4 linked regions of the Homo sapiens genome follow. The protein of the gene in region 1 interacts with the protein of each later gene in a biochemical or structural test. Each region holds a gene or a part of one and is shown in the gene's direction. Other genes may lie near its edges.

The links.
Region 2: of the proteins of CASP3 (region 1) and PTGES3, one has a biochemical effect on the other in vitro, tested with the Homo sapiens proteins (2 studies listed by BioGRID and IntAct).
Region 3: the proteins of CASP3 (region 1) and BIRC2 form a complex in vitro, tested with the Homo sapiens proteins (3 studies listed by BioGRID, with this or other methods).
Region 4: of the proteins of CASP3 (region 1) and HCLS1, one has a biochemical effect on the other in vitro, tested with the Homo sapiens proteins (2 studies listed by BioGRID).

Annotation. Positions count from the first base shown.
Region 1 is NC_000004.12:184,646,428-184,653,817, reverse strand, and holds the start of CASP3 (caspase-3 isoform a preproprotein), read left to right. Parts: upstream 1-4,370; 5' UTR 4,371-4,423; exon of another isoform or gene 4,424-4,710; intron 4,711-5,186; 5' UTR 5,187-5,353; intron 5,354-7,390. UniProt on the Homo sapiens protein: Thiol protease that acts as a major effector caspase involved in the execution phase of apoptosis. Following cleavage and activation by initiator caspases (CASP8, CASP9 and/or CASP10), mediates execution of apoptosis by catalyzing cleavage of many proteins.
Region 2 is NC_000012.12:56,685,276-56,692,248, reverse strand, and holds the start of PTGES3 (prostaglandin E synthase 3), read left to right. Parts: upstream 1-3,964; 5' UTR 3,965-4,249; coding exon 4,250-4,251; exon of another isoform or gene 4,252-4,985; coding exon of another isoform or gene 4,986-4,999; intron 5,000-5,331; exon of another isoform or gene 5,332-5,366; coding exon of another isoform or gene 5,367-5,380; intron 5,381-6,973. UniProt on the Homo sapiens protein: Cytosolic prostaglandin synthase that catalyzes the oxidoreduction of prostaglandin endoperoxide H2 (PGH2) to prostaglandin E2 (PGE2).
Region 3 is NC_000011.10:102,371,214-102,378,235, forward strand, and holds part of BIRC2 (baculoviral IAP repeat-containing protein 2), read left to right. Parts: intron 1-6,282; coding exon 6,283-6,537; intron 6,538-6,643; coding exon 6,644-6,685; intron 6,686-6,776; coding exon 6,777-6,970; 3' UTR 6,971-7,022. UniProt on the Homo sapiens protein: Multi-functional protein which regulates not only caspases and apoptosis, but also modulates inflammatory signaling and immunity, mitogenic kinase signaling, and cell proliferation, as well as cell invasion and metastasis.
Region 4 is NC_000003.12:121,657,901-121,665,359, reverse strand, and holds the start of HCLS1 (hematopoietic lineage cell-specific protein), read left to right. Parts: upstream 1-4,456; 5' UTR 4,457-4,540; intron 4,541-7,012; coding exon 7,013-7,096; intron 7,097-7,459. Other genes in the region: GOLGB1 (golgin subfamily B member 1), read left to right, coding at 329-434, 746-880. UniProt on the Homo sapiens protein: Substrate of the antigen receptor-coupled tyrosine kinase. Plays a role in antigen receptor signaling for both clonal expansion and deletion in lymphoid cells. May also be involved in the regulation of gene expression.

The DNA of each region.
Region 1 (7,390 bases):
TATGTCACCATATTAGAAATGCTTTTCATTCCCGGTGGTGAAAGAGTGTTGTCTTTCTTTTACATAATTGTGTATCAAAGCTCCTTTCCACTCAGGGACTGTAACTATTTTTGGTAAGTTTCCAAGTTCCGAAGGAAAACTTTTATTGTATTTTAAAAGATTGGGCTCCGCCCGGTGCAGTGGCTTGCACCTGTAATCCCAGCACTTTGGGAGGCCCAGGCGGGTGGACCACAAGGTCAGGAGTTCGAGACCAGCCTGGCCAACATGGTGAAACCCCATCTCTACTAAAAAACAAAATAAAAGATTGGGCTCAAAGAGTTTCTATTATTTAATTCTTAACATTGCACAGAATGTTTGTTTAACCATGTTTGATTATTTAAGCATGGTTGATACTGATCTTTCAACCAAAGGGGGTCAAGCTAGAAAAAAGGCTATGTTAGTTCTTTTCGAGTAACTATAGTGGGAGAAGAGGCAGCAGGGATGGAAGGGGAGAGATGACGCAGACCTAAGTAGCCCCAGCTTCCCTGCGTTTATGCCCAGCCTTGCCCAGCTGTGACACTTGATGGTCTGGATTCCAGGAGCAGCTGAAGGAGGGGGCACATGCTTCCTATTTACCAGTTTCTGGGGGGACCTGAAGCCAGCCTGGCCATGGTTCTTCCTAGCCTAGTTCTCTCAGTTTCTTTCTTTCTCACCTACCTACCTTCCTTCCTTCCTTCTTCTTTCCCTCCTTCCTTCCCTTCTTTCCTTCCTTCCTTCCCTTCTTCCTTCCTTCCTTCCTCCCTCCCTCTTCTTTCCCTTCTTTCCTTCCTTCCTTCCCTTCTTCCTTCCTTCCTTCCTCCCTCCCTCTTCTTTCCCTTCTTTCCTTCCTTCCTTCCCTTCTTCCTTCCTTCCTTTCTCCCTTCCCTCCTTCCTCCCTCCCTCCCTTCTTTCCCTTCTTTCCTTCCTTCCTCCCTCCTTTTCTTTTTTCTTTTTTTCTCATCACTGGTCAATTCCTATTCCCCAACTCCAAATTCTCCCTCTACCCTGAGATTAGATTCATCAGTATTTTGCATTTTCTGCCAATACTCTAGTTCTATGATTTGGTAATATCCTGGTATTTGACAATATTTTCTTAATATAATCCCTTTTCTAGCCTCTTGGAATGCATTCGTACTATTTCTCCCACTGCTAAAGTATTTATTATAAAGTATGTGATCAAAAAGCATTTACAAAAATATTATTATATAAGTTCACTTTCTGGATGAATAACACCTTAAGAAATTAAGTATAAGTGACTGGATTTTCCTTTTTTCTCCCACTTCAGTCACTTTGCCTTTCTATGCTTGAGCAGAAGTAACTCATATTTAAATTTCCCCAAATCCTCTTTAAGGAGTAAGAAAACACACAGCGATATATTGTGCTTTTTTTTTTTCCAGTTCCTCCTTTCTATCCTCCCCACAGGATCTCCCATCCAAACAGCATAACTCTGCCAGCCCAATCACCCTTAAAACCATTTTCATCACTTTTCACAGGGATAATGATTCATAGCAACATTCAACTCACACAGGTAAACTAACGTCACGAAGTCTAAACTCCCCTCCAGAATCTGGCCCTAAATCATTTACCTATTTCATTTCTTACTCTTCCACCATCTCACCAAATGAATTGATAATGACCTCTGCTTTCTCCTGAGCCACTCCAGAAACCTCCCCCCGCACCCAGCACACATTTCTCTTACCTGGAATGCCCCACGTTGCTTTTCCCGAATTCTTCCCCTTCCAGGCCCAGATCAAGTTCTGTCACCTCTGGGATACCTCTGTAAAGAGAAATTACTGGCTTCAGCCAGAAGACACTGCCTCCAGCCTACTGTTTGGCTATAATTAAAATGTTTGGCTGGGCACGGTGGCTCACGCCTGTAATCCCAGCACTTGGGAGGCCGAGGTGGGTGGATCACCTGAAGTCAGGAGTTCGAGACCAGCCTGGCCAACATGGTGAAACCCCATCTCTACTAAAAATACAAAAATTAGCTGGGCCTAGTGGTAGGCACCTGTAATCCCAGCCACTTGGGAGGCTGAGGCAGGAGAATCATGTGAACCCGGGAGGCGGAGGTTGCAGTGAGCCGAGATTGCACCACTGCACTCCAGCCTGGGCAACAAGGGTGAAACTCCGTCTCAAAAAAAAAAGTTCACAGACTAAGTAAATTAGTATGATTTACAGGAAACCAGAAAACTGCTGCTAATGCTTGCTAATTTGGCAAGAAAGTTTAGCACAGGAAGGGGTTTGGGCATCACAATAGGATAAGGACTAGTTCAACCACACTAGTCCCCTCTTTGCAAATTACTGCTCTGCAGAGCCACTGTTAAGGTTGGGAGTGGGTCCTATTTCTCAGTTTTATTGAGGCAGAAAAAGGACTGTCAAACATTGGTGTTCACTCAATTCAGGAGGGATAAAGAAAGGCCTAAGTCTTATTTGTGGGATCTGAGTTTAACTCCTGTGACTGTCTTTTTAGCAACAGCAAACTACTTAACCCCTTTTTTTTCTTTTTTTTGAGACAGAGTCTTGCTCTGTTGCCCAGGCTAGAGTGCAGTGGCGCAATCTCAGCTCACTGCAACCTCTGCCTCCCGGGTTCAAGCGATTCTCCTGCCTCAGCCTCTCAAGTAGCTGGGATTACAGGTGCCCACCACTGCACCCGGCTAATTTTTTTTGTATTTTTAGTAAAGACAGGGTTTCACCATCTTGACCAGGCTGGTCTCGAACTCCTGACCTCGTGATCCACCTGCCTCGGCCTCCCAAAGTCCTGGGATTACAGGCATGAGCCACCGCGCCGGGACTTAACCTCTTTAAACTCGGCCTTAACCTCTTTAAACCTTATCCTCTTTAAATTGGAATTCCTATCCCGAGGGATTGTTGAAAGGCTGAAACAAACAAATGTATTATGAAAATGTAAAAGCATGCAATAAACTCAGCAAGGGGTAACCATATATAAAACTAAGTATATTTCTGTGCAGAATATAGTCCCTATAGTCGAATAGGCGCAAGTGTTAGAAACAGGCTCTGCCATGGGGTCCCTGAATCTGACTTCTGAATGTCAAGAACTTTTTGAAATCTGATGCAGAATGTCGTGCTCACATGTGTTGGTGAATTCTTCTGCGAAAATGATTCACAGTTTGCTTCAGGGTCTGAAATGAGTTCACGACCCAAAATAGGAAGGGGATCGGTAGGGCAGTGTATATAGCACACCATTGACGTAACCATTAATAACTCCATCTTAGGAGAAGACCCCATTTTTACATTTCATAAGGCATTTGCCAACAAGCATACTATACTTTAATAAACAAATAAAAAAATAGTCCGCATCCAGCCAGGTAAGGACACAAACAAGCACTCTCTTCCATTACCAGTTCTCACCACAGGACTCTGTGACTATAAAAGATGGGGCCTTCGGCAGCTCCCAACAGCCGGCTTAATTGACGCCGTCTTTGCAGAAGGACCTCTCGGCCCAAACCAGGCTTCTTTTCCTCTTCTTCACTCCCTCTGGATTGGTTCGTTAATCTCTTTGCCCCATCTCTTTTTCCTCATGATGTTAAATGCTACTTTGTTGTGGGATGCTTAACTTGTAACATTTATATGTGGATTAAGTACACTACTATGATGCGTGAGCGGCTTGAGCCTGTGTGTCAGGCTCTGACTACCCAGTGACCAGCAAGTGCTGAGAACTGCCTCCTTGGGAACTCCACGCAGCTCGTGGCTTTTGTGATCGAAAGAGCGTCCACAGCAGCCTGACATGGTGGAAAACACAGCATGCGTGGACCTGGTTATTTCTAGCCTGGCACCCTGATGACAGGAGGTTAAGGCTTTTGATTTAGGGAGAGAGACCTGAGGGTAACCCAAAGAAAGGCCTCAGGTCATCGCAGAGGAGACAGAAATTACCGGTGGGCGTCCCGGCCTGCTCCTCTTCTTCCCAGAGCTCAAACTGGGCAGCAGGCCTGGCTTTGTCTCCCTTCTAGGTACCCGTTGGGCCTGGCGCGGTTTCCAAGTCTCCCTCAATTTCCCTCCAGAATCCCGCGCTGGGAGCGGAAGCCCGCGGACTCTCAGGAAGACCTAGATTTCAAATCCGGGGCGGGGGAGCCGGGCCGAGCCTCAGGGCGGGACCAAAGCGGGAGGACTGGCGCGGGACGCGAGGGCGGGACCAGGGCGTGAGGACGCGGGGCGCGGGGGCGGGGCGCGCTGCGGTGGGCGGGCGCCTCCTGGGGCCCAGCCTGGGGCTGGGTTCTCGGGCGGGCGGGAGCTAGGGGACGGGCCGCAGCGGAGGCGGCGCGAGGGGCCGACAGGGGCGGGCGGGAGGCGGGGCTGGCGCTGGAGCACATCTCCCGGCGGCGGGCCGCGGAAGCAGTGCAGACGCGGCTCCTAGCGGATGGGTGCTATTGTGAGGCGGTTGTAGAAGGTATGAGGAGGCTGTGCGGTGACTGCCGCCCTCGCTCCGGGCCGTCAGCCCTGCCCCCGCTCCCTGCGTTCTCCCAGGCCCTGCGCCCGCCCGGGTACCTGCCCGGTCTGGAAGGCGGAGTGTTTGTTTTGCCACCTCGCCCGGGCGGGGGCGAGCAGTGAAGCCCGCGGAGCGAGAGACTTGGCCCGGAGGCGGGAGCCTGGGCCGGGGCCGGGGAAGCCAGGCAGCGGGTTAAGGCTTTTGATTTAGGGAGAGGGACCTGGGGGTAACCTAAGGAAAGGCCTCAGGTCATCGGAGGGGAGACCTGGCCCGGGGGCGGGAGGCTGGGCTGGGACCGGGGAGGCCGGGCAGCGCGAGGCCGGGCCGGGGAGGCCAGGCAGCGGGAGGCCTGGCCAGGGGAACCGAGCCCGGGGCCGGGAGGTCGGGCACGGGGCACCGAGCTCCGAGGGCGGGAGACCTGGCGGCCGGCCGAGTGCCGGAAGGCCGGGTCAGGCGGCGGAAGGCAGCGGCAAGCTGGGAAACGGACGGCGCTACCGCCGGCGGAGGAGTGGCCCCGGGAAGCGGTGCTGCGAGGGCTGGGGCGGCCGGGTGCTGACTGTGAGATACTCGCCCTGGGGGCTGATCCTTCCAATTTTGGACGAGGCTTCCGTCTCTGCTGCCTTCCATGCCTGGGGCCTGGATTATCCCGGGTTGACAATGTGGTTTAGCTCTTCCAGAGAGATAGTTGCAGGGTTTAAACTCCAATTCCTTTTCGGCCCTGCAGAGTTTCGTGAGTGCTCGCAGCTCATACCTGTGGCTGTGTATCCGTGGCCACAGCTGGTTGGCGTCGCCTTGAAATCCCAGGCCGTGAGGAGTTAGCGAGCCCTGCTCACACTCGGCGCTCTGGTTTTCGGTGGGTGTGCCCTGCACCTGCCTCTTCCCCCATTCTCAGTAAGTGGCACCCAAGCAGGAAACCGGAAAACATCGTTCGCAGCCCCCTCTCGCCCACCCACTTCTTTTCCTGCTTAGTCGCCAAGCCTTGTCGACCTTGTAAATGTCTGCCAGATCTGTCCGCGTCTCTCTATCTCTGATTTCAGCCGTCTGACCACAGCAGCCTCTTCCCTGGTCTCTCCACTTCCAGACCCGCCTGCTCCTTTGCAGTCCACTTTTTACAGCACAGGCAGAGGGATCTTTATGAAATGAAAGTCTAGAAAGCTCGTCCTTTGCCCTTAGGTTAAACCCAGCACTTAATATGGCTAACAAACCCCTGCGTGTGTTGGGTCCTGAGTGCCCCCACCCCTCCTTATCTTTAGCACCGGTTCGATTTCTGCACGGCAATGCTGACCTTCATACCTAGTGTCTGCCTGCAACACCTCTGCACTCCCTTTCTCCCGCCATCACATTTGATTAGAAGAGCTGCTACTTAAATTTCTGTTTTCATTAAACAGTTTAAGGTTAAATCTTCCTATGCTGTGTTCTTTCTGCAGCCAGCATTCCCTAAGAGAGATGTGTCATATCCTTTGCAGTTGCTTGTTTACTATCTTCCCTGCTAGATTTGCAAGCAAACTCCAGGAGGGACGGACTTGGTTTATCTTGGTATCCTTAGTGTCTTGCCCCAAATGCGGGGCCTGGCATAACACAGTGAATGCCCATCCATTGTATTTTTACTTTTATGCCCTATCTAGAAAAAGTAGACCTGGTTTAGGATTATTCAGCAAATAATAATTAGAAAAGAAATGGTAGAGGTGACATACGGAGTCACTGAAACGATGTAAACCTGCAAGATAGCTGAAAGAGGGCCAGGCAAGGTGGTTAGACCAGACTGTATCAAAATGGGCTCAGCCACTGTGAATGTGCGTGCTGTGGTTACATAATCTCTAAAAATGAAATATAAAGCTTAAATCATCTCTATCACAGCCCGATGCTTGGACTTTGGTTTTGCTTTGCCTTTTTGCAAAAGAAGGTTTTTGAAAGTGAAAATTATTTTAGTGAATGGATGAACAGTTTATTGGAGTATGGCAATAAAACCTGTTCAAAGTAAGAGACATTAGACATTGTACCTAGTTAAATCAGATTTGCTTTTGCTATCCTGAATAAAGGCCTTGCCTCTTGCCATTTGAAGAGACTGGCATCTGATATAGGCAATTATAATGCTTCTTTACTGTTTTGTTTTCAAACCTCGTTTAACACAATCTCCTACTGCTTCATCCCCCTACAAAGCAGTCTTTATTTTGATGAATGATATATTACATTGCTTCTGGTGCCTACTATTAGATCTTTAAGCTCTGCCCCAAAGATAAGAAGCACTGGTGTTTGGGCCTAAACAAAGATGGGAGAATTCTTAGATTTATATAATATTCTTTCTCTGCATGTTTTGTTCTTACCTTCACATGTTGCCTGTAGAGCTTCTTTGCATTACAATAATGAAATCAAGCTACCTGATATGTATTGGACACGGTCTGGCATCTGCCTTGTTGAGCCACTTTTGAATACCAGTGAGCATCGGTATAAGCCCTGAATAGAGATAGGGTTTGTCTCTTCCACTGCTTGATACACTCAGGGTCTAGTATAGTACTCTGCACACAGTTGGTGTTCAGTAAATTGTTATGGTGCAAATATCAAATGAATAAATGCTACTGAATCTGAGTTTTGGCAGTTTCAGTCTTCCTGACAGCAGGATTTCTTCAAGCGGTTTTAAACTTGAATCTGATTCTGCAAAGTAGTCATCCTTGGTGGGAGTGCTGAGGCTTTAAAGTCATCTGTAATTTTTATAAAAAGGCATCCGAGATCCTCCATTTTACACTTATATCATACAAATCATTTAGATCTGTGAAGGCTTTCCCATTTTCTCCTTTTGTCCTTCCAAAAACACCATCTTAGGACTTCACCTGGCACAGGGAAGACAGATCGTTTGCACATACTAAGTGCCCTTCTTTCTAACTTGTGTCATAAACTCAGAGGCTTTGAATAGTGGAGAGTGCTCTGTAC
Region 2 (6,973 bases), on another chromosome or scaffold:
CACCCAGCTAATTTTTGTATTTTTAGTAAATATGAGGTTTCACCATGTTGGCCAGGCTGGTCTTGACTCCTGACCTCAGATGATCTACCTGCCTCAGCCTCCCAAAGTGCTGGGATTACAGGTGTGAATCACTGCTCATGGCCACCCAGGCAGGTTTTGAACTCCTGGCCTCAAGACATCCTCCCACCTTGGCCTCCCAAAATGTTGGCATTACAGGCATGAGCCACCATGCTTGGCCTAAAACATAAGTAATTTTAAAAATGATTTTATTTGCTGGGCGCAGTGGCTCACGTCTGTAATCCCAGCACTTTGGGAGGCCGAGGCAGGCAGATCACCTGAGGTCAGGAGTTCAAGACCAGCCTGGTGAACATGGTGAAACCCCGTCTCTACTAAAAAGAGATCGTGCCACTGCATTCCAGCCTGGGCGACAGAGACTCCATCTAAAAAAAAAAAAAATTTATTTTTTCAAAGACAGGGTCTCCCTACGTTGCCCAGGCTGGACTTGAACTCTTGGGCTTAAGCAATCCTCCCACCTCAGCCTCTCAAGTAGCTGGGACTACAGGTGGCTACTAGTAATGTTTATATTAAGCTGGGTCATAATATCTCTTTTAAGGTTTATGGCCAATTTTTTTTTTTTTTTGAGACAGAGTCTCGTCACCCAGGCTGGAGTGCAGTGGGGAGATCTCGGCTCACTGCCACCTCCACCTCACAGGTTCTGCCACAGCCTCCCAAGTAGCTGGGATTACAAGCACCCACCACCAAGCCTGGCTAATTTTTGTATTTTTAGTAGAGACAGGGTTTCACCGTCTTGGCCAGGCTGGTCTTGAACTCCTGACCTCATGATCCACCCATCTCAGCCTCCCAAAGTGCTGGGATTACAGGCGTGAGCCACGCGTGCCCCGTCTTTTTTTTTTTTTTTTTTTTTTTTTGAGATGGAGTTTCGCTCTTGTCACCCAGGCTGGAGTGCAATGGCATGATCTCGGCTCACTGCAACCTCTGCCGCCCAGGTTCAAGCAATTCTGCCTCCGCCTCCCAAGTAGCTGGGATTACAGGCGCCTGCCACCACGCCCAGCTAATTTTTGTATTTTTAGTAGAGATGGGGTTTTGCCATGTTGGCCAGGCTGGTCTTGAGCTCCTGACCTCAGGTGATCCACCTGCCTTGGCCTCCCAAAGTGCTGGGATTACAGGCATGAGACACCGCGCCCGGCCCAATTTTTATTCCCTATACCCAGGAGACTTTTCTTTTTTTGAGACAGAGTTTTGCTCTTGTCGCCCAGGCTGTAGTGCAATGGCATGATCTCGGCTCACTGCAACCTCCACCTCCTGGGTTCAAGCAATTCTCCTGCCTCAGCCTCCCTGGTAGCTGGGATTCCAGGCATGCGCCACCACGCCCGGCTAATTTTGTGTTTTTTAGTAGAGATGGGGTTTCTCCATGTTGGTCAGGCTGGTCTCGAACTCCCAACCTCAGGTGATTCGCCCGCCTCGGCCTCCCAAAATGCTGGGATTACAGGCGTGAGCCACCGCGCCCGGCCTCCAGGAGACATTTTTACCATTTTGCACCCTTTCCCTTTGACTTCCTAATACAAAATTAACAACTTCTAAGTTGTTATCTTATTAGAAAGCCCCCTTATAAAATAGGATTGTTCTCACCTTCAATTAACAATTTTTTTAATTGCTCAAATCAGTCTATAAAGTTCTCTTTTGCAATTTGTGACTCTGGACATATATTTAAATTCAGTCGTTACAGGAGGATCAATTGGACCCAGAAGTCAAGACTGCAGTGACCTGTGATACCACTACTGCACTCCAGCCTGAGTTAAAGTGAGACCCTGTCTCAAAAACATAAAAAAAAAAAAAAATTTAGCCTGACATTCAGTGCCACCATTATTTGGTTGTGACCTATTTTTTCTTTTCTTTTTTTTTTTTTTTTTTTTTTTTTTACACAGAGTCTCACTGTCACCAAGCTGGAGTACAGTGGTACAATCTAGACTCGCTGCAACCTGCGTCTTCCGGGTTCAAGAGATTCTCCCACCTAAGACTCCTGAGTACCTGGGATTATAGGCACACCACGCCCAGCTAATTTTTGTATTTTTAGTAGAGATGGGGTTTTGCCATGTTGGCCAGTCTGGTCTTGAACTCCTGACCTCGTGATCCGCCCGCCTCGGCCTCCCAAAGTATTGGGATTACAGGCGTCAGCTACTGCTCCTGGCCAAATATTTTGTATTTTTAGTAGGGACGGGGGTTTCACCATGTTAGCCAAGCTGGTCTTGAACTCCTGATCTCCAGTAATCCACTGGCCTCGGCCTCCCAAAGTGTTGGGATTACAGGCGTGAACCAGTGCGCCAAGTTAACTTCCTTTTTTTTTTTTTTTTTTTTTTGAGACCCAGACTCACTCTGTCGCCCAGGCTGAAGTGCAGTGGCGCGATCTCGGCTCACTGCAACCTCCGCCTCCCGGGTTCAAGCGATTCTCCTGTCTCGCTCTCCCGAGTAGCTGGGACTAGAGGCGTGTGCCACCACACCCGGCTGATTTTTTTTTATTTTTAGTAGAGACGGGGTTTCACCATGTTAGCCAGGATGGGCTCAATCTCCTGACCTCGTGATCTGCCCGCCTCTGCCTCCCGAAGTGCTGGGATTACAGGCGTGAGCCACCGCGCCCGGCCCCTTCCCTTTTTTTTTTTTTTTTTGACACAGGGTCTCACTCTGTCGCCCAAGTTGGAGTGCTCACTGCAACCTCCGCCTCCCGGGTTCGGGGTTCGAGCTATCCTCCCGCCTCATACTAGCTAGTATTTGGCATTACAGGCAAGTGCCACCACGCCCTGCTAATTAGTATTTTTAGTAGAGATGGGGTTTCACCATGTTGGGTGGGCTGGTCCTGAACTCCTGACCTCAGGTGATCCGCCCACCGAACTTCCCAAAGTACTGGGATTATAGGCGTGAGCCACGGGCGCCCCGCCCAATTTCCCTTTTTAATGGCATTTGAGCTAGGGTCCAGGTTTCGTAGCTCCCACTACCTGTCCTGCACAACACAGACACTAAATACCTTAGTGCTTATTATGAAGCCCCGTTCTTCAGAAAGGTTTTATAGCACTTTCGTTAAACCTCCTTCCTGTTCAAAATGCAGCGCACTAGAGTATTTTTCCCCAATCCACCGTTAAGCGGCTTCTTCTTAAGCAGGACTGTTTTGGGTCTCTTGGTTGCTACCCCTACTACACCCTACTAATATGTTGCACAAAGCGACGGGGAACCCCTTCTCCCCCAAACGATGTGCGTGGAAACACACAATGTCCTACTCTCTCCATTCCCAGAAACCTAGACTCTCCCCTCAAATACCTTTCCTGGCTCATCTACAGCACTAAGGTCTCAAGGTAGGGGCAAAAGCCCGCCCCAATTGGCAAATGCTCCTCCTCCGCCAAGAACCTCGAATTTCCGCTGTCCCTGGACAGAGCCTCCAACCTTCAGAAAAATGGCGAGGTGGACCCAGGCCCTTGATTCTGAAGTGAGCCCTTTTCCACAGCACAGGCTTTTTACAGGTTTTTGTGGTGGAATGATGACTCAGTGAGCTGATTTACTCCCTCAAGAGTAACCAACGCGCCATTTCAGTTCTCCAGGATCCCGACTCCGTGTCCCTCCGCCTCAGCCTTGCCTCCCACTGTCAACGCAACCGTTTCTCAGAGAAATCGCCGAAGGCGCATGGCAGGGCAGTTGGGCCACTAACGGTTTTCTAACGCGAGAAGACAGAGCGGGAGGAGAGGCGGGAACGCGTAGGGACTAGCAGGGGGCGGAGTGGGGGTGGGGTGGCGGACGAAGGGCGGGGCCGGCGCCAGGAAGGATCGCGAAGGAGCTGGGAGGCCCCGCCCTTTCCGTAGATATCTCTAGAAAGCCGCGCCGGAGCCCAAAAACAAGGACTGCGCACGCGCGGCGGCAAGGCCCGGGCATTTTGCTGCGTCACCAGCCGCCGCCCGGCCTCACCACCCCTCGTTTGCACGCACGCACGTTCATTCTCCGTCCTCGCGCCCCTTTTCCTACACTTTCCTCTTCTCCCCGACCGGAGGAGCCGCTCTTTCCGCGCGGTGCATTCTGGGGCCCGAGGTCGAGCCCGCCGCTGCCGCCGTCGCCTGAGGGAAGCGAGAAGAGGCCGCGACCGGAGAGAAAAAGCGGAGTCGCCACCGGAGAGAAGTCGACTCCCTAGCAGCAGCCGCCGCCAGAGAGGCCCGCCCACCAGTTCGCCCGTCCCCCTGCCCCGTTCACAATGTGAGTGCGACACCCCGCCGAGGGAAGGTCGCCGAGTGAGGCCGAGGCCGCGTTGGGGGCTCCCTGGAAGCGGCCCCCTAGCCTTTCTCGCATCGGTGGTGGCAGTCGTTCCTGCCTGGGGGCGGGAGGTCCAGGATCCTTGTTCCGGTTACCGTTGGCGGGTGGAGGACATTTTTCCTCCAGATGTCTGCTTCCCCCACCCCTGAACCGTTCCTTGGCTTCCCCATGCCGGAAATCCTACTTTTACCCCTTTGGCTGTCTGGGTTACTCGCCTCTTTCGGTAACTTCACCCTAGGCCTTAAGCTCCCGGTAGCTGCTCGCCATGCGGCGCCCTGAAGCGTGAACCTTCGTGGGTCGCCTCTCGGCTGCTTGGGCGCTCCGGTTCTGTTGCTTTGTGGTCCCGGGGCCAGGCCCTGAGTCGAGTGCACCTGTGGTGGGTGCCGCCAGGTGCCTGGCGGAGCTCCTGGGAGAGCCCCACGCGGACCTCGCCGTGAGCTGCAGGTACTGCTAGGCAACTAGAAGGAAGCCATGCCCACGCCGCAACATACTTCCCTCTCCAGTGTCTGGGTTTCTTGAGTGTGGGTACTTCCAGTCCGCCTCCTAACTCCAGTCTCTTGAAAACACGGGAGGTTGCCAAAACTCAGCCGCTTCCCTGGCAGCGAGGAGGAGTTACCATTGAGCAGGTAGTTCCGCACGTGTCGACTTTGGAAAGATACGGACATTTTCTGTGTTTCATGTTCTACTTGAGGTGAGGTTTCACTATCTTGTTACAGTGTAGGATGAAATAGGTATGTAGTAGGCATTTAATTAACCTACAGTCGTCCCAAAGATCTTAAATTTGTGTGGAGGTGAATACAGATTCTATGGCAGTCTTCATTTTACGATGATAAAGGAAAGCCTTGGCGATTTTAACCGGTAAGAATTCTTGGCACTGCCGCGTACAGTGGGAACTGCCGGTTTTACAGGGTTTTTTTTTTTTTTTTTTTTTTTTTGACGGGAGGTTATTTTTCAAGGTACTAACTACGTCCTAAAAGGTATGGAGAACAATTAAGGTGGAACCTTTTTTTTCTTTTGTTTTAGACTCCATTCAGAAGAGAGAAGAGGGGAGTGACTTTATGTCTTTGGAAAAGTAATAAGGATTTGCTTGATTCAAGTCATGATACTGAGGCTGAGTATATTGGCTAGAAATCTAAAGGGATGCGTGAGGCTGAAGCGAGTTTATCACTGGGAACAAGCTTCTAGAGCACAGCATGTTAGAATTTTTGAAGGAGCCCCCTCCCCGAAAGTGATACGTAATCGGGGTTTTAAAAAATTTGAATTAGGCTGGGCGCGGTGGCTCACAACTGTGATCCCAGCACTCTGAGAGGCCGAGGCGGGCGGATCACCTGAGGTCGGGAGTTCGAGACCAGACTGACCAACATGGAGAAACCGCGTCGCTGCAAAAATACAAAAAAAATTAGCCGGGCGTGGTGGCACATGCCTGTAATCCCAGCTACTCGGGAGGCTGAGGTTAGGAGAATCGCTTGAATCTGGGAGGTGGAGGTTGCGGTGAGCCGAGATCATGCCATTGCACTCCAGCCTGGGCAACAAGAGTGAAAACCCGTCTCAAAATAAATAAATAAATTTGAATGTATATAAAATAGTTTTTGCTTTTCTATTTGAAAGCTCTCCTAAGTAATGTAGAAGGGACATCAGTCTTAACCTTTCATACTCTGAAAATCTGTAAGGGGAAATTTTTTGTCAGATGAGGCATTAAGCAGCTTTTAATAATAGAGCCAAACAACATATCTTTTCGCGAAAAGTATGTTTAAAATTGGCTTGAAGTAGAAGCATTTGATGGAGGCCACATGAGATATTTAAATAGGTAAGGAACGGCTATTACTAGGAAAGTAGATTTAAAAACTTGGGTGAAAAGTAAGTGTAAGGCCAGGCGCGGTGGCTCACGCCTGTAATCCCTATACTTGGGAGGCCGAGGCAGGCGGAACACGAGGTCAGGAGTTAGAGACCAGCCTGGCCAATATGGTGAAACCCCGTTTCTACTAAAAATACAAAAACTAGCTGGGTGTGGTGGTGCATGCCTGTAGTCCCAGCTACTCCGGAGGCTGAGGCAGGAGAATCGCTTGAACCCAGGAGGTGAAGGTTTCAGTGAGCAGAGATTGCGCCGTTGTACTCCAGCCTGGGCAATAGAGGGAGACTCCGTCTCAAAAAAAAAAAAAAAAAAAAAAAAGTAAGTGTAGCAGTAGAGAGACTATTCCAAAAAGTAGCCTCTCTAGTTAAAAAATAAAAATGCTACTTTCATGCCGGGCGGGGTGGCTCACTCCTGTAATCCCAGCACTTTGGGAGGCCGAGGCGGGTGGATCACGAGGTCAGGAGATCGAGACCATCCTGGCTAACACGGTGAAACCCCGTCTCTACTAAAAATACAAAAAATTAGCCGGGTGTGGTGGCGGGCGCCTGTGGTCCCAGCTACTTGGGAGGCTAAGGCAAGAGAATGGCTTGAACCCGGAAGGCGGAGCTTGCAGTGAGCGGCGATTGCGCCACTGTACTCCAGCCTGGGCGACACAGCGAGACTGTCTTAAAAAAAAAAAAAAAAAAAAAGAAAAGAAAAAATGCTACCTTCAAAACGAGTGATTCAATGCCACTTGAAGAGTGTTGGGCTGGGGGAAACAAGTGTTTTGAAGAGACCAGCTAAAATATTCTTTTAAAAATAATATATGCCGTT
Region 3 (7,022 bases), on another chromosome or scaffold:
GTGGTGAGAGAGGGCATCCCTGTCTTGTGCCCGTTTTCAAAGGGAATGCTTCCAGTTTTTGCCCATTCAGTATGATATTGGCTGTGGGTTTGTCATAGATAGCTCTTATTATTTTGAAATAGGTCCCATCAATACCTAATTTATTGAGAGTTTTTAGCATGAAGGGTTGTTGAATTTTGTCAAAGGCTTTTTCTGCATCTATTGAGATAATCATGTGGTTTTTGTCTTTGGCTCTGTTTATATGCTGGATTACATTTATTGATTTGCGTATATTGAACCAGCCTTGCATCCCAGGGATGAAGCCCACTTGATCATGGTGGATAAGCTTTTTGATATGCTGCTGGATTCGTTTTGCCAGTATTTTATTGAGGATTTTTGCATCAATGTTCATCAAGGATATTGGTCTAAAATTCTCTTTTTTTGTTGTGTCTCTGCCCGGCTTTGGTATCAGAATGATGCTGGCCTCATAAAATGAGTTAGGGAGGATTCCCTCTTTTTCTATTGATTGGAATAGTTTCAGAAGGAATGGTACCAGTTCCTCCTTGTACCTCTGGTAGAATTCCGCTGTGAATCCATCTGGTCCTGGACTCTTTTTGGTTGGTAAGCTATTGATTATTGCCACAATTTCAGATCCTGTTATTGGTCTATTCAGAGATTCAGCTTCTTCCTGGTTTAGTCTTGGGAGAGTGTATGTGTTGAGGAATTTATCCATTTCTTCTAGATTTTCTAGTTTATTTGTGTAGAGGTGTTTGTAGTATTCTCTGATGGTAGTTTGTATTTCTGTGGGATCAGTGGTGATATCCCCTTTATCATTTTTTATTGCGTCTATTTGATTCTTCTCTCTTTTCTTCTTTATTAGTCTTGCTAGCGGTCTATCTATTTTGTTGATCTTTTCAAAAAACCAGCTCCCGGATTCATTGATTTTTTGAAGGGTTTTTTTGTGTCTCTATTTCCTTCAGTTCTGCTCTGATCTTAGTTATTTCCTGCCTTCTGCTAGCTTTTGAATGTGTTTGCTCTTGCTTCTCTAGTTCTTTTAATTGTGATATTAGGGTGTCAATTTTAGATCTTTCCTGCTTTCTCTTGAGGGCATTTAATGCTATAAATTTCCCTCTACACACTGCTTTGAATGTGTCCCAGAGATTCTGGTATGTTGTGTGTTTGTTCTCATTGGTTTCAAAGAACATCTTTATTTCTGCCTTCATTTCGTTATGTACCCAGTAGTCATTCAGGAGCAGGTTGTTCAGTGTCCATGTAGTTGAGTGATTTTGAGTGTTTCTTAATCCTGAGTTCTAGTTTGATTGCACTGTGGTCTGAGAGATAGTTTGTTATAATTTCTGTTCTTTTACATTTGCTGAGGAGAGCTTTACTTCCAACTATGTGGTCAATTTTGGAATAGGTGTGGTGTGGTGCTGAAAAAAATGTATATTCTGTTGATTTGGGGTGGAGAGTTCTGTAGATGTCTATTAGGTCCACTTGGTGCAGAGCTGAGTTCAATTCCTGGGTATCCTTGTTGACTTTCTGTCTCGTTGATCTGTCTAATGTTGACAGTGGGGTGTTAAAGTCTCCCATTATTAATGTGTGGGAGTCTAAGTCTCTTTGTAGGTCACTCAGGACTTGCTTTATGAATCTGGGTGCTCCTGTATTGGGTGCATATATATTTAGGATAGTTAGCTCTTCTTGTTGAATTGATCCCTTTACCATTATGTAATGGCCTTCTTTGTCTCTTTTGATCTTTGTTGGTTTAAAGTCCGTTTTATCAGAGACTAGGATTGCAACCCCTGCCTCTTTTTGTTTTCCATTTGCTTGGTAGATCTTCCTCCATCCTTTTATTTTGAGCCTATGTGTGTCTCTGCACGTGAGATGGGTTTCCTGAATACAGCACACTGATGGGTCTTGACTCTTTATCCAATTTGCCAGTCTGTGTCTTTTAATTGGAGCATTTAGTCCATTTACATTTAAAGTTAATATTGTCATGTGTGAATTTGATCCTGTCATTATGATGTTAGCTGGTGATTTTGCTCGTTAGTTGATGCAGTTTCTTCCTAGTCTCAATGGTCTTTACATTTTGGCATGATTTTGCAGCTGCTGGTACCGGTTGTTCCTTTCCATGTTTAGTGCTTCCTTCCGGAGCTCTTTTAGGGCAGGCCTGGTGGTGACAAAATCTCTCACCATTTGCTTGTCTGTGAAGTATTTTATTTCTCCTTCACTTATGAAGCTTAGTTTGGCTGGATATGAAATTCTGGGTTGAAAATTCTTTTCTTTAAGAATGTTGAATATTGGCCCCCACTCTCTTCTGGCTTGTAGGGTTTCTGCCGAGAGATCCGTTGTTAGTCTGATGGGCTTCCCTTTGAGGGTAACCCGACCTTTCTCTCTGGCTGCCCTTAACATTTTTTCCTTCATTTCAACTTTGGTGAATCTGACAATTATGTGTCTTGGAGTTGCTCTTCTCGAGGAGTATCTTTGTGGCGTTCTCTATATTTCCTGAATCTGAACGTTGGCCTGCCTTGCTAGATTGGGGAAGTTCTCCTGGATAATATCCTGCAGAGTGTTTTCCAACTTGGTTCCAATCTCCCCATCACTTTCAGGTACACCAATCAGACGTAGATTTGGTCTTTTCACATAATCCCATATTTCTTGGAGGCTTTGCTCATTTCTTTTTATTCTTTTTTCTCTAAACTTCCCTTCTCGCTTCATTTCATTCATTTCATCTTCCATTGCTGATACCCTTTCTTCCAGTTGATCGCATCGGCTCCTGAGGCTTCTGCATTCTTCACGTAGTTCTCGAGCCTTGGTTTTCAGCTCCATCAGCTCCTTTAAGCACTTCTCTGTATTGGTTATTCTAGTTATACATTCTTCTAAATTTTTTTCAAAGTTTTCAACTTCTTTGCCTTTGGTTTGAATGTCCTCCTGTAGCTCAGAGTAATTTGATCGTCTGAAGCCTTCTTCTCTCAGCTCATCAAAGTCATTCTCCATCCAGCTTTGTTCCGTTGCTGGTGAGGAACTGCGTTCCTTTGGAAGAGGAGAGGCGCTCTGCGTTTTAGAGTTTCCAGCTTTTCTGTTCTGTTTTTCCCCCATCTTTGTGGTTTTATCTATTTTTGGTCTTTGATGATGGTGATGTACAGATGGGTTTTCGGTGTGGATGTCCTTTCTGTTTGTTAGTTTTCCTTCTAACAGACAGGACCCTCAGCTGCAGGTCTGTTGGAATACCCTGCCGTGTGAGGTGTCAGTGTGCCCCTGCTGGGGGGTGCCTCCCAGTTAGGCTGCTCGGGGGTCAGGGGTCAGGGACCCACTTGAGGAGGCAGTCTGCCGGTTCTCAGATCTCCAGCTGCGTGCTGGGAGAACCACTGCTCTCTTCAAAGCTGTCAGACAGGGACACTTAAGTCTGCAGAGGTTACTGCTGTCTTTTTGTTTGTCTGTGCCCTGCCCCCAGAGGTGGAGCCTACAGAGGCAGGCAGGCCTCCTTGAGCTGTGGTGGGCTCCACCCAGTTCGAGTTCCTGGCTGCTTTGTTTACCTAATCAAGCCTGGGCAATGGCGGGCGCCCCTCCCCCAGCCTCGCTGCTGCCTTGCAGTTTGATCTCAGACTGCTGTGCTAGCAATCAGCGAGACTCCGTGGGCGTAGGACCCTCCGAGCCAGGTGTGGGATATAATCTCTTGGTTCGCCGTTTTTTAAGCCAGTCTGAAAAGCGCAATATTCGGGTGGGAGTGACCCGATTTTCCAGGTGCGTCCGTTACCCCTTTCTTTGACTCGGAAAGGGAACTCCTTGACCCCTTGGGCTTCCCAAGTGTGGCAATGCCTTGCCCTGCTTCGGTTTGCACACGGTGCGCGCACCCACTGGCCTGCGCCCACTGTCTGGCACTCCCTAGTGAGATGAACCCGGTACCTCAGATGGAAATGCAGAAATCACCCGTCTTGTGCGTCGCTCACGCTGGGAGCTGTACACCGGAGCTGTTCCTATTCGGCCATCTTGGCTCCTCCCCTCCTTCAATAAATATTTGTTGAGCATGAGCACCAGTGCCAAATACTGTGCCTAATCACAGTGGTTGCTGTCAAGGAGTATATACACTAGCTGGCGAGACTAGTGTGCAAAAGACAGGGTTAAAGGGCCAGCAGAGAGGCGAAGGTTGCATATGTATTGGAGTATTGCGTTGGAAGATGCTTTCTTTTTAAGCTTGTAAGTAAAGACAGGAATAACTTAAGAGTACCTTATTGCATGACCGTGTAGCAAAATATTTAAAGTCTGGACTTCTACATTGAAACAGATTTGTGTTTAAATTCTAGCTCCAGGCTGGGCGCGGTGGCTCATGCCTGTAATCCCAGCACTTTGGGAGGCCAAGACGGGCGGATCACAAGGTCAGGAAATTGAGACCATCCTGGCTAACACGATGAAACCCCGTCTTGACTAAAAATACAAAAAATTAGCCGGGCATGGTGGCGGATGCCTGTAGTCCCAGCTATTCGGGAGGCTGAGGCAGGAGAATGGCGTGAACCCGGGAGGCAGAGCTTGCAGTGAGCCGAGATCGTGCCCCTGCACTCCAGCCTGGGTGACAGAGCCAGACTCCATCTCAAAAAAAAAAAAAAAAAAATTCCAGTTCTATCAGTTACTAGCTTGGCTATTTATTCAACCAGACATCGGCTTTCTCATCTGTAAAATGGGGATAATAATAGTATGACTCCCATAGGGTTGCTGTAGGAATTAAATGAGATATTGCAAATAAAACACTTTAACACAGCTCCTAGCACGTCAATTTTTTTTTTTTTTTAAGCATTAGGTAGATTGACTTGGGAAGTGGGAGGGACTTGGTGAAAGAAAGGGCCTAAGAAAAGTCAATTTAAGGATTGTTAAGTAGTAATGAAATCCAGCTAAGGTTATATGAAATCACTGTCACCTTAGATTTATGACTTTCTCATACTTTGTATGGGTTGGAAAATAGTATTGAATTACAGATTTGGCAGTGTTAATAGGGGAAAGGGCAAGTAAGGAATACGGAAGATGAGTTAAGGGTGCTAATATAGAGAACTTCATTGAAATACCTGACTGCTACCTAGATTAGAATAGGAGGTTTGAAGCAAAGCCAGGAGATAGCTCTTGTGCAAGTAGAATTGGGAATGACATGGAGATCTTGAAAAGGTGAAGAACAAATTGGTTAGCAGTGAGAGGAATTATTTAGGTAGAAGAAAAAGTTGTCACAGAATGGAATTTTATAGTTTTGAGATTAATAGAGCAGTTCACTTCTAGAGAGATGTAAAAGGGGAAAGAAGATAGGCTTCTGTTTTTATAATTTATTTCTCATTAAACTGGTACTTTGTAGAGATGTACTTTTTAAATTTTTTTGAAAGTCTGAAAATAGACAAATTTTATAATGATTCAGATACCAAAAGAAGGAACTACCATATTCCATAAATATAAATTAACTGTGGAGTTTTATGTGATGCGATATTAAAGGAAAAACATTGGCTTTTTAAAAAAAGGTCAGGCTTGATTCTTAGGTAGTTTTTTTTAATTGCTATAAACATAGACATTTATAAAATAATAATGGTAGTTAACTATGTACCACATATTGTGCCAGATGCTTTACATGTATTATTCAATCCTTACAACTTTGAGGAAGGTACCGTTATGTATATTTTACAGATGAGGAAACTGAGGTGTATGGGGAAGGATGAGGACACATAGCTAGTGAGTGGGCCTAGCCAACACTGGAACCTAGGTCTGTTTTGACTTGGCAACTCAAACCCTACAATACTACAATACCACGTCTTAAGTATGGGGTGTTGAAAAGAACACTGGTCTAGGATGCCTGGTTCTGCAGCTTATTCTTTCTTGTGATCTTAGGCCACTCATTCTTTTCTGAGTCTTTTTTCTCCCTATGTAAAAATGAGAGGCAGTAATACTCGCCTTGTTTAATTGACAGGATCACTGTATCAAATGAGACAAATTACTATGAAAGTGCTTACAAAAGTAAAATGATATAATGGAAATACAAGAGTATTATTATATATGGTGGGGGGAAATTTTTACTGTCTTCTACAAATCTCTTGCAACAAAATAAAGTAAAAGCGGAGTTCTAGGACATGTAAATATATAGACTTAAAAATTAAACAGAGACTTCCTCTGGAAGTTTTCCAAACAACAAACTTACAAATGCAAACAAGTTACTTTGTTCTTTTTTGAACTTTATTTAGTGCCTAAATTGTTTGTAGGGTTGGTTATTAGTGACTATATGAGTATAGTTAAAGGAGTTTAAAATCTAATGGATTTCTTTTTCTTTTTTTAATGAAGATGATTTGTCATTAATTCGGAAGAACAGAATGGCTCTCTTTCAACAATTGACATGTGTGCTTCCTATCCTGGATAATCTTTTAAAGGCCAATGTAATTAATAAACAGGAACATGATATTATTAAACAAAAAACACAGATACCTTTACAAGCGAGAGAACTGATTGATACCATTTTGGTTAAAGGAAATGCTGCGGCCAACATCTTCAAAAACTGTCTAAAAGAAATTGACTCTACATTGTATAAGAACTTATTTGGTGAGTTTGTTGGGAAAATTATTTTAGAAATTCTTAGGACTGGCCAGATGCGGTGGCTCAGTTTTGTATTTAGTAGAGTAATGGTTTTTATGTTTTCTTTCCTCAGTGGATAAGAATATGAAGTATATTCCAACAGAAGATGTTTCAGGTAAAACAAAGATTTAAAACCAACATGAACTATTACCCTTTTTTTTTAATGAAGTGGAAACAATTTCACTAAAGTTATTTTTTGTTATTAGGTCTGTCACTGGAAGAACAATTGAGGAGGTTGCAAGAAGAACGAACTTGTAAAGTGTGTATGGACAAAGAAGTTTCTGTTGTATTTATTCCTTGTGGTCATCTGGTAGTATGCCAGGAATGTGCCCCTTCTCTAAGAAAATGCCCTATTTGCAGGGGTATAATCAAGGGTACTGTTCGTACATTTCTCTCTTAAAGAAAAATAGTCTATATTTTAACCTGCATAAAAAGGTCTTTAAAATATTGTT
Region 4 (7,459 bases), on another chromosome or scaffold:
TAATTTAACCTCTGTAAGCCTTAGCACTTTGAAGATAATAAGACCAACCTCAGAACCTGAGGATTAAATGTATGTAAAGCACCCAGCCTAGAGCCTGATACATAGTGAGTAGGCAGTCAATTCCTGATAGTTATTGTCACATTTTGCTGCTGCTGAAGGAAACGTATCTGCTGGTACCCCCCTTGCATGGGTTTGGGTTTATGGGAGCAGCTTTTGCTGCAAGTCTCCTCCTGTGCTGCATTGTGTGGCAGGATGACTGGGAAGACTGGGCCTGATCAGCCTCTCATGCTATGAACCAATGCTATGCCTCTTTTTTTTCTCAACTCAGGTTAGAGCACAGTGAATGGGACTCTTCCCGGACTCCTATCATTGGCTCCTGTGGCACTCAGGAGCAGGCACTGTTAATAGATCTTACAAGCAACAGTTGTCGAAGGGTAAGAGGAAGAAGGATAAAGAGAGGGTGTTTTATTATCTGACAGGGCTGGCTATACTGGGGGCAAGGAGCTGAGGAGAAGGAATGTGGAAGTCCAGCCACTGAGCAGCGAATGAGTCTAAGGCTGGAAGGGCGTGGAAGATTAGAACCTGGTGGAATTTGCCAAGTTGTTGACTCTGAGGCAACTTTCCTCTCAGAATACCCCTTTCTACAGTGGTTGGGTCAGCTTTGCTTAAGTGCAAGACTAGTAGGAGGGAAAGCAACATAGCCCTATAGGGTGAAAACTCTCTGACTTTCACATTTTTCTTTCAGACCCGGAGTGGCGTTGGATGGAAGCGAGTCCTGCGTTCACTCTGTCATTCACGGACCCGAGTGCCACTTCTAGCAGCCATCTACTTTCTAATGATTCATGTCCTGCTCATTCTGTGTTTTACGGGCCATCTATAGACTTAGTTGTTACTCTTTGGACCACTCCCCTCAAAACTTGGAATTCTCTCACCTCTAACATCAGAACATCAATTCCAGTGGAACAGTCTTCCCATTTACAGGTCTTCTCTCCAACTCTTCACGGAAAGTGCCTGCAAAAACAGAGGTGGATACGAGGACAGGTTGGAGCTGCAGGGACTGGCGAGTCTGCTTTCTTCTACTGCCCTGAGCCTGAACGCTTCTGCTTAATCTGAGAATCACATTTGGTTTGTTGAGCCTAATATTTGTTGAGATTTTGCAGGACCCTGATCTTTTGTGGTCCTGTAAAAGATACTGAGGAATGTCTTTCAGCCAAGCCAAGAGGATGGTTTCAATAAACCTAATAATCTGAAGTTCAGTATCATTTTGATTGATAACTTTCTTTGCCTTGTTTGCCTGTATTTTCTCCTGTTTCAGGGGGAAGGTGGCTCTGCCATAAACAGAGTTCAGGGAAATGAACATGTCACCTCATAGGACATCTGATTTAGGTCTCTTGCAGAATAGGGTGGTGAAAGCTGAAGGAACTCCCTAGGGGTTTTAGCTGTTAGATCACATGGGAGGACAGCATCTTCTTCCCTGCCAATTTCAGATATAATTGGAGGGAGAATTTCAGGTCTTAGACTATAAGGATAGAATCCCTTTGCTTTTGCCCTTGATCACATGTATACTAAGGTATTAAGTGGCCCAAGTCTTTCCTTTCACCAAAGGGCAGGGAGAAGTGTCTATGGACAGCAGGGTTCCAATTCTTGTCATTCCAGGAATATCTGAATATTCCTGGAATGTGGACCCTGAGACAGTGCTCAGGGGCCACTGGGAGCCAATATTAGGCATTGACTCTCAGCCAGGAGTCTGACTGGTCTAACACCACACTGCAACTCCTGACCTCTTGAAGTACTAAGCTACTTTGCTGTTAGTGACAGTTATTACAGTTTCTCAGCCCCATTGTCTCTGCCCTCTGTGGCAATGGAAGGAGAATATAGAGAAGACAAAATTAAATATAGATAGACCTGAGAAGGACAGCCAGGATAGAATTCCATTTGTGCCTATTCCCTGCCTCCCCTCCCCTCCCCCATCCTACCAGTTGGTTATTTTCTCATTGCATACGTGATGTGTTCACTGCCTAGCCTCTCCCTAAAGAAGAGAGAAGACAAGTGGGCTGACTGATCTGCTCTAAATCTACTGTGGTGATTAAATCTTGGTTACAACATCCTGGGAAGTTTCCTGAACAACTGTAAAATAATAAAATTATTTTCAGAATGAAGAGTTTGTGTGTATGTGTGTGTACGTGTGAGTGAATGGATATGTGCACAGGTGTTTCGGTACCTGTGTTTGCATGCTGGGGGGTGGAAGGTGGGTAAGGGAAGTAGGGAAAGGAGGTAGCCAGGAATGGTTATAGGGGTAGAAAGCTCTACATATTCAGGCTTTCTTCTCACTGGCCAATATCAGTGACAGCTGCATGCATTTTTCCAGCCTTAGCTGCTAGACCCCAGGTGATGAATGCAGTGAGGAAATTCTATCCTAATACTGAACCAAATAAGCTGGGCCTTAGGGCATGAAATTGATGCAGGTCCATGCATGGTCCTGGGAGAACTCTTGTCTGGCACATAGTGAAAACATTAGGCCCCTAGGGATCCCTCTGGGTGGGAATGGGAGAAGAGAAGCTTAATAGCATGTAGCAGGTTAGATAGGCATTATTATGTTTTGTTTTGTTTTGTTGGGTTTTTTTTGAGACCGAGTTTCACTCTTTCGCTCAGGCTGGAGTGCAGTGGCACAATCTCAACTCACTGCACCTTCCGCCTTCCAGTTTCAAGCGATTCTCCTGCCTCAGTCTCCCAAATAGCTGGGATTACAGGCACCTGCCACCATGCCCGGCTAATCTTTGCACTTTTAGTAGAGATGGAGTTTCACTGTGTTGGCCAGTCTGGTCTCAAACTCCTGACCTTGTGATCCACCCGCCTCAGCCTCCCAAAGTGCTGGGATTAGAGGTGTGAGCCACCGTGCCCAGCTATTATGGATTTTTATATTAAGTTGCTGCTTGAGAGAAGATAGCTCACTTTCTCAAAGTACAATAAGTGGTTTAATTGAACCAAGTCTGTCTGGCTTCAAGGCCCATTCTTTTTCTGTGTGATACACCTCACTACCTCATCAGTAATGAACTTGTGACATTTGCTAAGGAAAGATGGGACTTCTTGGTGTCATCTCTGATTAATTTCTATATTTTCTCTAGAGAACTATGTACCTGGATGGTGTGTCACATCATCTAGTCTAAATCGTATTTTGACACTACATGAGGATTCCAAGTGATTTTTCTCTTGTACAAACGTACTCTTCCTTATCATAACTTTGGTACCACCATGATAAATAGGTAATAAAGTAGAAGGAATAAATAAAGCTCCCCCAGGCATAGAATCCTTAGATTTGGAAGTGACAGAGGCTTCATATTCCTAATGCAGAAAAGTGCCTGTATCATGGGCCAGTTTCATCCAGTCCTGCTTAAACTCCTTGGAGGATGCACCGTTGTGAACAAATCAAGAAGTCCACAATCAAGATTAGGAAAGGCTAGGTCAGATACAATAACAGACACCCTCAAATTCTCAGTAGCCAAAACAAAGGACTATTTTTTAGTGAAAGACTCCAATTCCCCCACATGGTGGATGGGGCTCCACTTGTGTTCTTTCTCACTCAGGGACCCAGTCTGCTGGAGGAGCCAATATGGAGAATTGCAGGTTGCCTTGGGCAGTGGTGAAAGCATGGCAAAGCTTGCAGTGGTCTTACGGCCTCCGCCAGAAAGTGGTATCTGTCACTGGCCAAAACAAGTCACCTGAGTAAGTCTGACTTCAAGAGGGAAGGGAGGGGCAGCAAGTCTTGACACGCAGTAAAACAGGATACCACAAAGACCTTCTTCCATCAGCTGACCAGCACCTGGTTCTTTCAGAATTCTTCCTACGCTCTAGAGCCAAATCTTTAGTTTGTTAGCTCAGACTCCACAGTGCCCCAAACAAGCTAGGAAACTCTCCTTCCATGTCTTGCCTTTTCCCTCATGAGTTATTCTCTTCTGGCATTCAATTGGTCGACGTTTATTTGAACATCTATATGAAAACTCCACTTTTAAGTGCTGTGGGTAATATAGGGGTGAGTTTCTTTTTAAGTCTTATGCTTCAAAACCCACATATAAATCACTTTTCCCATAAAGCCTTTCTTGATGAATACACCCAATACCAAATGCTCTGAATTCCTTTACTGTCTCAAATGTAACTGCCACCCTATTTAGGACACAATGCTGTTCTACAGCATTCTCTAATGTGTTTTCTGGTTGAATGTTTGTTTCTCTCACTGGATTACAAACTCAGAGTCAAAGCAGCATTTTCTATGACTGCTCTATGACCCCCATTGTCAAAACCTTGCAAAAGACCAGGCACAGAAACATTTAATCCTTTTAAAATTTAAGTGTCTAAAGCAGAAGGAACTGACTCAAATTTCAGGAAGTAGCTGTGAGGATGGGGTGGCAGGAAATGACGAAAACCTGAATACGGAACTGAAGCAGCAGCTCAGTTTCTCACTCCGAAGTGGCAGCAGCCAGAGAGGGAGTCGGTGTGGACGCGAGGAGCCGGGCGCTTAGAACAGAGGCTTGCACAGGTGGAGGTGGGTACTCTGAGCCATGGGACAGTTGGGAAACACAGAGTAAGAGTTGAGGAGGAACCTACCTGGCTCTTAGTCCTTGGTGATGGGCAAGGTCACCACTAGTAGGCTTTTATCCTTTTATGGCCAGAAGGCCTGGTTGTGAGTGGTTGTAGCAAATCAGCATCTGGAGATAGAAACAAAAGGGAGGGGCTTAAACCCAAGGCAAGTGTTTCAGGAGCCATCTAGCACCAACATCAAGCAAAGTGTTGCCTGGTTTCTGCTGACAATCTACAACCCACTCTAAGGCCTGTCTCCCCTAGGTACTGAGCTGGGAGGAGGACCACAGGAGACGAAAACAGTGTCTGCCCTTGAAGAGCATATGGTCTCAGGGAAACAAACCCACACAGGAAATGTAACAGATCAGGAAGTAGTCACTGATGTACACTAGCACTGAGTACCAAGTGCTGATGGAGCCCAAGAGAAGGCATGATTGTTCTGCTGGGGCTAGTTTCTGTGTTCGTAGATCACAGAATCTCAGAATGTCAGAAATCAAGGAGACCACAGATGAGCTACGTTAACCCCTTCATTATTTTCCACTGGGAAAATCAGAGATAATTGCTGATTTGCCAAATTATTAAAGTTAGTATTTCTTAATCGCCTGGTCTGATACCTGGCAAATGAGTACCTACTCTGTTGATGCCCTTGTGATGGTCCCTCAGAGGCTTAGTCACAGAGCTGGGGTGACAGCCAGGGCTTCTGACTCCCAGTCTGTGTACTTTGATGCAGGAGGTCAGCATCGCAACAAGGCCTCACCAGATTACTCTCTGGTTCTCACCTCTAGATAGCACTTCTTACCTTTCTGGTTTCTGGTCAATAGGTCAAGGATATTAGATAAATTGTCTCTATTTCAGAAACTCTTTATTTCAAAAATGGGTGAATGGGAGAGTCAGGCTGAGGCCTCAGAGGAGCCACAGGAAGGAGGATGGGACCATCAGTCCTCATTGCTTCCTTATTGCTCATGACTATTTCAGAAACTTCTCCATTCCAGTTTTCTGTGTGACAGTCCTTTTGTTGTTGCACAGCAGCCCAGGAGCCAGGGGATGAGAAGCAGAGGGGTAGTAAGGATGCAGGTAGTAAGGATGTTTTGCTGTCTCCAACCGCATCAGGGAAAGCCAAGCTGCTTTCAGCCATGACTCCCGGCTGACTCAGTCAATATCTCTCCGGTGTCCCCTTAGCATCTCTTTAACTGATTTACCCAGACTTCCCCTGGGCTGGTTTTTAAGAGGTTGCTCAATGGAGAAGATGGAGCTTTCAAGTGGAAATAGAAAACTGGAGAATCTGAAGGCCTAGGTGGAGACAGGAGAACCCGAGGAGTGGTTGTAAAGGGACTCTTTGGAGACGATGGAGAGCATGGGGAAGGTCTCCAATGGGATGAGGTGTCTGAGGAGGGAAGGATTGCCAGCTAGCAAGTGCTGCCAGGGTCAAGAAGTCTCAGTGGTGACCACAGCAGATGAGCATTGTCTGTTGTTACTTCTTCACACCAAATCCACAGATGCAGAGCAACTGTGCCGCTCTTCCTTCTGCACAGTCCGGAAGGCCGTCTAGAACACTGGGAATGCCCCAGCAGAATAAGTTTGGCACCCTTCCAAGCTAGGGTTCTCTAAATATTTCTGCAACATTTATTTAGTTGATAAAAACTGAGTACCTCTTAATGTTCAAAATCAGATTTATTACATATTATTCTTTTTTCTTTTCTACGGTAAATTGTCAACTTGAAAACATGCTATTTTTTGACTTTAGCAATTAATTGAACCATTTTTAAAAAATTGAGTAATAACTGACTTATTCCCAGCAAATAATGCTCTCCCAATGCATTGTTCCATGTGGAAATTTCAGCCGACTGTCGCTGCTGACCTTACACAGCTGTGAGGTGACCAGACTCAGGGTGGAGGTGGGACAGCACTTGGACCAGAGGCTGGAAAAATTCTCAGTGTAGTTCAGCAGGTTGTAAAGAGGGATGTAGATGTTCACTTTGTGAGAAGCAGAACCAATTTGTATTTCAACAGCAACAAAGGAATCATATATAGAAACCTGAGTGAAATAAGGCCATAATTCTAGGGATATTATAGCACCGCTCATTGCCAACCACCTCCAGCCACTGCCTGGCTGGCCTCGGGACACAAGTGAACAATTCCAGCAATTTTGACTCGTGGGTTACCTAGTGTTACCCACACCCATGATGACTTCTCTCTAGCCCCAGGTGGGCCCAGCCCACATCAATTCGTCTTGATTAAAGTCCCATCTCTCATCTTGTAACTGAGCAGAAAAGCCTTCCTACAACTCCCATTTGCTTTGCTTCATTTTCTATTTTCTTCTAAGAAAAAAAAAATGGCAGGAAATATTGGGCTGCTATATTTTGACTTCAGCATTCCTATTTTCCCTCCTCTTGATCCTTTTTTGTCCCTAATTATTCCCATCTCCGGTCACTCTCAGATGTGGAAGTCTGTAGTGGGCCATGATGTGTCTGTTTCCGTGGAGACCCAGGGTGATGATTGGGACACAGATCCTGACTTTGTGGTGAGTTTGGAAGTAGCTTTGCTTGGACAGTGCAGAGGGTGGGGTGAGGAGGGCATCTGGGCCACTCTGTGATCTTTGAGGATGCTTGGAAAAGGGCCTTCTAGGACTGAGACAGCCCTCATACTGGGACTAATTGGTAGGACAATTGGCTGTCACCTGTGGGGCATGCACGATACCTGGTATCAGGGATGAAAAGAGACAGGTGTGGGTGAGTTTGACAGTGTGATTGACAGGCCATGGCAGGCTACACTGAAGGTGAGAAGCAGGTGAACCTGGGTCTCCCCTGGCCCATGATCCAGGATTCAAGCTGGGCATGTGTAATTGGGGGATTAAAAAGCTGTAGGAGACCAGATGGGGTAGGCA